2 linked regions of the Homo sapiens genome follow. The protein of the gene in region 2 purifies or fractionates together with the protein of the main gene of each other region. This does not show direct contact. Each region holds a gene or a part of one and is shown on either strand. Other genes may lie near its edges. The genes, in order: SMARCAD1 and ZNF578.

Region 1 (3,826 bases), on a different chromosome or scaffold from region 2:
ATTGTCTTTTAAACTTTTTAGGGCCTAGGAAAAACTATTCAAGCCATTGCATTTCTGGCATACCTCTATCAGGAGGGTAATAATGGTCCTCATTTGATCGTTGTTCCAGCTTCAACTATAGGTTTGTAATACTGGAGACAACTGTATTTAACTTTATCATGTTTTATATAGGTAGAAGAGAGTGTGTGTAAGGGTGTGTGTCGGAGGGGTGTTGTGGTTTCTTAGTTTGTAGAGATGAATATTAATTTTATGGTCTCTTTATACTTTTCTCCTTTGTTTATATATGTGTGTTTGATTATATTGGCAGTCTTTTAAAAAGAACTCAAATGTAAGTCAGTTTTAAAATTTTAGACCAAGGACGATTTATGTTGGTTTCATAATACTTTTAGTTACTTTTAAAAGTGACTAAGAGAAAATGAGTACTTTTAAATGTAGAATTAAACAGATACGTAATTAATTCCTACACACATAACTGTTCCATTCTTTCTCAATTCGTTGGATGTAGAAGTTAGAATAAGAGAATATTTGTACATGTGAATGTAACAAAGAAAACCCCCTTCTCTTTAAATTGGAGGTTAATAATCAACTGTAAATATAATATTTGGTCATCTGCCCTTCATTTTGATGCCTCACAAAACCTCAAGATCATTTTACATAGGTTTCATAAGGAGTAATATTGTAAAGGGTCTGTGATAAAAACAATCGCCATGGTATTTATATTTTAATTTTTAATTTTTATTTATTTTTTTTAAGACAGTCTCGCTGTGTCACCCAGGCTGGAGTGTGGTGGCTCAATCTTGGCTCACCGCAACCTCCGCCTCCCAGGTTCTCGTGCCTCAGCCTCCCGAGTAGCTGGGACTACAGGCGCCCGCCACCATGCCTGGCTAATTTTTGTATTTTTAGTGGAGATGGGGTTTCACCATGTTGGCCAGGCTGGTATCAAACTCCTGACCTCAGGTGATCCACCCGCCTCAGCTTCCCAAAGTGTTGGGATTACAGGCATGAGCCACCTTGCTGGGCCAGTATTTACTTTTTATAAAAGACTGATTTCTGAGTAGCACTTGTCAAAGTTTAGTGTTAATTTAACCATGTGAACATACCCTATTGTAGCAGATGCAAATAATGTCTCTTCTGTTCCATAGATAACTGGTTAAGGGAAGTTAATTTATGGTGCCCTACTTTGAAGGTCCTCTGTTACTATGGTAAGAATATGTCATTCTGCTTTTAACTTTGGAAATTAAAAATAAAGTACAGCACAATAAATAGTCATGTGTTTATTGTTTTTAAATTCTAGGTTCTCAAGAAGAACGTAAACAAATTAGATTTAACATTCATAGTAGATATGAAGATTACAATGTAATTGTGACCACGTAAGTATTGAGAAATTTGGGGAGGATGGATATTTATGCAGCCCCCAAATTTAAAAAAGAAATTGTAGTAGTACTATGTAGGAAAGTTTATGCTGTTAACTGTGATACGAAAGTAATAGAATGACTAATGTTGAGGATTCAGGCATTTTTTAGTTTGGTGTGTAATACCCATATAGGAGGTTTTTGTTAGTGAATCACCTCATTAATGGTGACTATAAAAAGGTTTTGCCTAGTTATTGAAAAAAGTCGTCTTGTAATAGTAATTTCTCAGTTAAGCTTAAAGTAAAATTTGAGATATCCCACCAAAATTATTTATATTTTTAACTTACAAATAAGTATCTGTAATAAATACAATGAAATTTCATTTTCTCAATGAAAAATTTGAGTTAGGGCAGAAATAAAAATGAAAAATAATACTAATAATACTACTTGGTAATAATTGATGTAAATATCTTGCACAGAACTTAATGCTCTTGTGTTACATTAGTTGATTTATTTAAAGTTCTATTTTAACTGTAGTTATTATTTCTCTCTACTGGCTTCTTGTGTAGGAGTCTGTCCTTTAAAAATTCATGCGGAATTTTATTTTTTCTTAATAAAACAGGCTCCATATGCAGTCTCAAGCTGCTAGCTATTAACTATTATTTCTTGGATCTAATCTGCTAGTTTAATAAAATATTAAGTTTTAAAGAGAAACATGTTTTAGCTTCACGTTCTTTTTTGTGCTTATTAAAATATAACACTTCATGGAGCAGATTACTTACAAGTTATACCCAAATTGACCTCCTCCTGGGTATGTAGAAGTTGTCCGATTGTAACATTAACATTTTCTTTTTTTTTTTTTTTTTTGAGACGGAGTCTCACTCTGTCCCCCAGGCTAGAGTGCAGTGGCGCGATCTCAGCTTACTGCAACCTCTTGCCTCCCGGGTTCACGCCATTCTCCTGCCTCAGCCTCCTGAATAGCTGGGACTACAGGCGCCCACCACCACACCCGGCTAATTTTTTATATTTTTAGTAGAGACAGGGTTTCACCGTGTTAGCCAGGATGGTCTCGATCTTCTGACCTCGTGATCCGCCCGCCTCGGCCTCCAAAAGTGCTGGGATTACAGGTGTGAGCCACCGCTCCCAGCCTTTTAACATTTTCTTTCAATTATGTATTGCAGCTTTCATAGCTTGGTTACAGTGTACATCAATAATTATTAAATACAAGTACGTCAGTATTTATTTGAGTATCACCCGTGTCTAGTGCTGTGCTTTAAGTACTGGCTGTTAGAAATGTGTAAATAAAAAATGATTTTATAAGACATTAAATTTCACTAGACTCCAAGCTCTTAAAGGTATAACCTTAGAGATGTTTTTTCTTTTGGTGACAGATATAACTGTGCGATCAGCAGTTCTGATGACCGTAGTCTGTTTCGACGGCTGAAACTTAATTACGCAATTTTTGATGAGGGCCATATGCTGAAGAATATGGGCTCCATTCGCTACCAGCACCTTATGACAATTAATGTAAGAGAATGTTTGTAAAGTTTTCCAAATTACTGTAAAATTTAGATTACGTAATTTAATATATGTAGTATTTATTAGCAGAATCTGTATTATGTAGTTTAATATATGTAGTATTCTGTGTTAGCAAGTTTTTTCTGTAAAAGGGAAGATAGTAAATATTTCACACTTTATGGACTAGATGGCCTCTGTCACGTATTCTTTGATTTTGTTTTTTAACAACCCTTTAAAAAATTATTAGGTCATAAGCCATAATTTACCTGTTCTATATGTTAAACTATTTATAAATAATCTTTCATCATCTCATAAAGGTGATACGAGGACACAAGTTACCTACTTATAAAAGAAGACCAATGGTTTTCGTATTCATTGCTGTTGATAATAGCGGACGTCAATTATTTAAATTACTATATCATTTATCACAGAATGTTAAATTATTAATAATGGTTTTAATTTATCTCTCCTCCCTTCACCTTTCACTGGGGAGGATAGACATGAAAGGAGTGGCTCTTTAAGAAAAAGCTAATATAAATTTTACCTTCATTCACAGGCAAATAACCGTTTGCTGCTCACAGGCACACCTGTACAGAACAATCTGTTAGAACTCATGTCGCTGTTGAATTTTGTTATGCCACACATGTTTAGTAGTAGCACCAGTGAAATACGAAGAATGTTTTCCTCTAAGACAGTAAGCATAAATGCATATTTTCTCCCAAATATGTTATTTGTGTTTTATCTGGGCCATTCTTCTGTTAGGTCTCTTTTGTTGTTTTCATAGTGCATATGCTCTATGAAGTAACTTTAAGTAGGTGATAACTCTATATTTGGATTGGTTTGGAAACCAGCCAAAATATAATGGGAAAGAAAATAGCAATTTCCCTAATCAATGGCCAGAAGTCTTGGTTAATATCCTAATTTTCTGAAGGATGACGATTTTAAATTGATGAAGA
Region 2 (3,826 bases):
TTGAACATCAGGGTGCTGTGTCTTCCATTTCTGAAAGCTGATATCGGCCTGTGATCCACAGAGAGGGGAGAGGCTGTGCTCTGCATGGGGTTTGGTCAGGGCCAGATCTGTGCCCTGAAGGGGAGCTCAGTCCAGCCCAGCACCCCACAGCTGCAGCATGTATGTGGGCTTCTCCAGGTGGGGAGTAAGCTTTGAAGAACTCAAAAACTGACTTGTTCTTCCTGTAGGACTTTCTTGTCTGCATCATCCCTGGTGCTGTGGGCAGCAGAGGGCCATCTTTCCACAGGGCGAGGTCTTTCCTGTGTATGTGGTTGTGGCACAGGGAGGGGGTGTGTTGATTTTGAGCAGTAAACAGCATATTTTGAACACTCAGGATTAACTTGTTTTTTAAAAAGTTTTCTTTTTCTTTTTCTTTCAGGATTAGCTTCTAAAGTCTCTTTCATCTCTCCTAAGGAAGAAGCCTAGAAGAGGAGGAAGAGGAAAGAAAAGGAGTCAGGAATGCCTCTTAGGTACAGTGATATTCTCAGTGGACTGTTGTGTGTCTCCTTCCTTTCTGAAATGCCATGTGTGGTGTTATGATATATATTGGTTTCCATCGACGGTTCCTGGCTTATAACCTCCATAGCCCTTGTTACAATCTTTTGTTGTAATGTTGGATGTGTTAAGCCTCAGGGGTAGGCCTCTGACCTTCTTTTGCCTTCCTTTCACTCTGATGCTCCCCAGCCTTTCTAATTGTGGGTCTTAAGACCCTCCTCCGAGAGCTTCCCACCCTGTACCCTGGGGGGAAGAATGTTGATGTCATGAAACTTCCATAAAAACCCAAAAGGGCAAAGTTCGATGAGCTTCTGGATGGCTGAACACGTGGAGGTTCTTGGAGGTAGTAAGCCCAGGGGCGTCATGGAAGCCCTGCACTCCTTCCTCCATACCTTGCTGTAGGTGCCTCTTCGTCTGTATCCTTTGCAGTATCCTTTATAATAAACTGGTAAAGGTAAGTAAGTGCTTCCCTGAGTTCTGTGAGCCAATCTAGCAAATTAATTGAAGAGGGGGTCGTGTGAACCCCAGTTTGAAGCTGGGTGGTCATAAGTTCTGAAGGCCTGGACTTGCGACTGGTGTGTATGGAGGCAATCTTGGAGACTGAGCCATCAACTCGTGGGATCTGACGTCTCCAGTCTTAATGTACACAGTAGATAGTGTTGGAATTAAACTGGAAGATACCCAGCTAGTGTCTGCTGCTTGGTGTGTGGGGAAAGTACCCACATACATTTAGTCACAGAGGTCTTCTATGTTGATGATTGTTGTGGTGTGAGAGTAGAGGAAAAGCACAATTTGAGGAGAGCTTTTCCCTGTACACATCAGGCATTGGAGATGTCAGTCTTCTCTGAGTCTGAAGCATGCTGCCTGTGATGTTTGCTCACACTCACCCATGTCTTCCCTCAGGCCCTCTGATGTCACTTAAATTCCATCTCACAGTGACTGGTGCTGTGGAATTTGTGAAGAGGCTCCATTGGGAAGGGCTTATACCCAGACATGGATGGAGACGGGGTGTGGGCCCCATGGTGTCACTGCTCTTGGGCAGCAGGAATTGAAGGATTGTTTAAGGGCCAGGTCTGGAGGCACTGCCAGCTCTGTAGACTGGATTATGGAAGCTGCTCGTGGAAGTCTTAATGTGCACAACTGCCTGATAAAATTTGGAAGAAGAGATTAGGAAGAGGAAATCTTTTCTGCCTGATTTTATACTCCATTTGTAGTAAATGTTTAACAGCAAGAGATTCTTTAAACCATTCTAAGTACATCCATCCTATGGAGATTGTGGTATTCCTGCAGAGACTCTTGTGAAACAGATGTTTCAGGTGAAAATGGTAAGACTTGGGTAATACTTCTTCTAGGATGGGGCATTTCCTATTTTCTTAGATCTCTCAAGGTTCCCCTGTTATCCCCAGCTGCAGGGGTACCTCTCCTATCAAGAACATGTGAAATTTTGCCCTCATTAAAAAAAAAACAACAACTTGCTACTATGTTTATATATATATATATTTTGAAAATCTGGGAAAAATGACAACCCTCTGTATTTTCATTTTTCAATTTATTGTCTACATAGGTTTTATTATTTTGGGGACATGTATATACAAAATGAATTTTCATGCTTTGCTCAATTTTCTTTCCATGTATTTTAGTATGTGTTTTAATTTCTGTGGTTTTTATTTCTTTCATATGCCCTGATGTCTTTTATTTCAGGTTATACATTTTTTAATTGTAAGACAAATCTTTCATTTATACCTTCTGATTTTTGTTGTGCCTTTGTTTGTTTCATCTTGATTTGGAAGGCCTTGCATGATTATGAAGTACTAAGTTTCATTTAGGAATAAAGTTTTGTTGTTTAAAATTTTGTTTACATTTGTGTTTAATTTGAATTTTTGCGTATATCATAAGTATTTGATTTGTTGTAAAATTACAGATGTTTGTCATAAGAGGTTCTTACATATTTGGAAAACCCCTCCATTTTGTTTTTCTTTTCAAAATTGTGATGGTTCTCCTTTCACAGGGCACAGTCATTAAAAACTCATATATTTCTTTTGTGTTTGAATGGCTGTGGATTCCTAGTCAGAGAGGTCTTTGTGTCACCACATCTGCTAATAAGAATTGGGTTTTCCGGTCCATGATGCTCTTTGTTATGTCTTTTAGTAAAGTTTATTTGCCTGTTTATAGTTCAGTAATGTTAAGTATGTTCACGTTACTGTGCAACATATCTAGAAGTTTTTCATCTCGCAAAACTGAAACTGTATACCCAGAATACACTATATCCCTTCTGACCTCACTATAGCCTCTGTCAACCCATCTTTCTATGTTGTTTATATGCATTTGACTACTTTAGTATCCCACGTGAGTGGAATCACATAGTATTTGTCCTTTTGTGACTGTCTTATTTTCCCTAGTGTAATGTCCTCAAGGTTCATCCGTGTTGTAGCATATGACAGGATTTTCTCCTTTTATAAAGCTGAATAATATTCCATTGCATGTGTATAACACATTTTCTTTATCCATTCATCTGTAGATAGGCATGTTGGTTTTTCTGTCTTCTTGGCTATTGTATATAATGCTGTGATGAGCAGGGATTTGCAAATATCTCTTTGAGGGCCTGCTTTCAAGTCTTTAATGTGTATGTACACACACACACACACACACACACACACACACACACACATATATATACTACCATATGATCCAGCAGTCTCACTTCTGGGTATGAGTGTGTATATGTAGATATGTGTGTGTGTGTGTGTGTGTGTGTGTGTGTGTGTGTGTATATATATATATATATATTTTTTTTTTTTTTTTTTTTTTTTGAGATGGAGTCTTACTCTGTCACCAGGCTGGAGTGCAGTGGTGCGATCTTGGCTCACTGCAACCTCTGCCTCCTAGGTTCAAGTGATTCTCCTGCCTCAGCCTTCCAAGTACTACAGGTGCGTGCCACCATGCCCAGCTAATTTTGTATTTTTATTAGAGACGGGGTTTCACCATGTTGGCCAGGATGGTCTCAATCTGTTGACCTCGTGATCCACCCACCTCAGCTTCCCAAAGTGCTGGGATTACAGGCATAGCCACCGTGCCTGGCCAGATGTATATTTTCAAATATGTACGTGTGTGTGTATATACACACACAAATATATATACGTGTGTGTATGTATATAGATGTATAAAATATCTACACACACCCATGCCCAGAAGTGGGATTGCTGGATTATATGGTAGTACTGTTTTTAATATTTTGAGGAACCCCCTTACTGACCTCAGTAATGGGTATACCATTTTACATTCTCACCAACTG

What was found.
Region 1: the proteins of ZNF578 (region 2) and SMARCAD1 purify together in Homo sapiens (co-immunoprecipitation; one large-scale study listed by IntAct). This does not show direct contact.

Annotation. Positions count from the first base shown.
Region 1 is NC_000004.12:94,273,596-94,277,421, forward strand, and holds part of SMARCAD1 (SWI/SNF-related matrix-associated actin-dependent regulator of chromatin subfamily A containing DEAD/H box 1), read left to right. Parts: intron 1-21; coding exon 22-121; intron 122-1,142; coding exon 1,143-1,202; intron 1,203-1,294; coding exon 1,295-1,370; intron 1,371-2,743; coding exon 2,744-2,879; intron 2,880-3,426; coding exon 3,427-3,564; intron 3,565-3,826. UniProt on the Homo sapiens protein: DNA helicase that possesses intrinsic ATP-dependent nucleosome-remodeling activity and is both required for DNA repair and heterochromatin organization.
Region 2 is NC_000019.10:52,456,450-52,460,275, forward strand, and holds part of ZNF578 (zinc finger protein 578), read left to right. Parts: intron 1-227; exon of another isoform or gene 228-287; intron 288-418; 5' UTR 419-509; intron 510-3,826. UniProt on the Homo sapiens protein: May be involved in transcriptional regulation.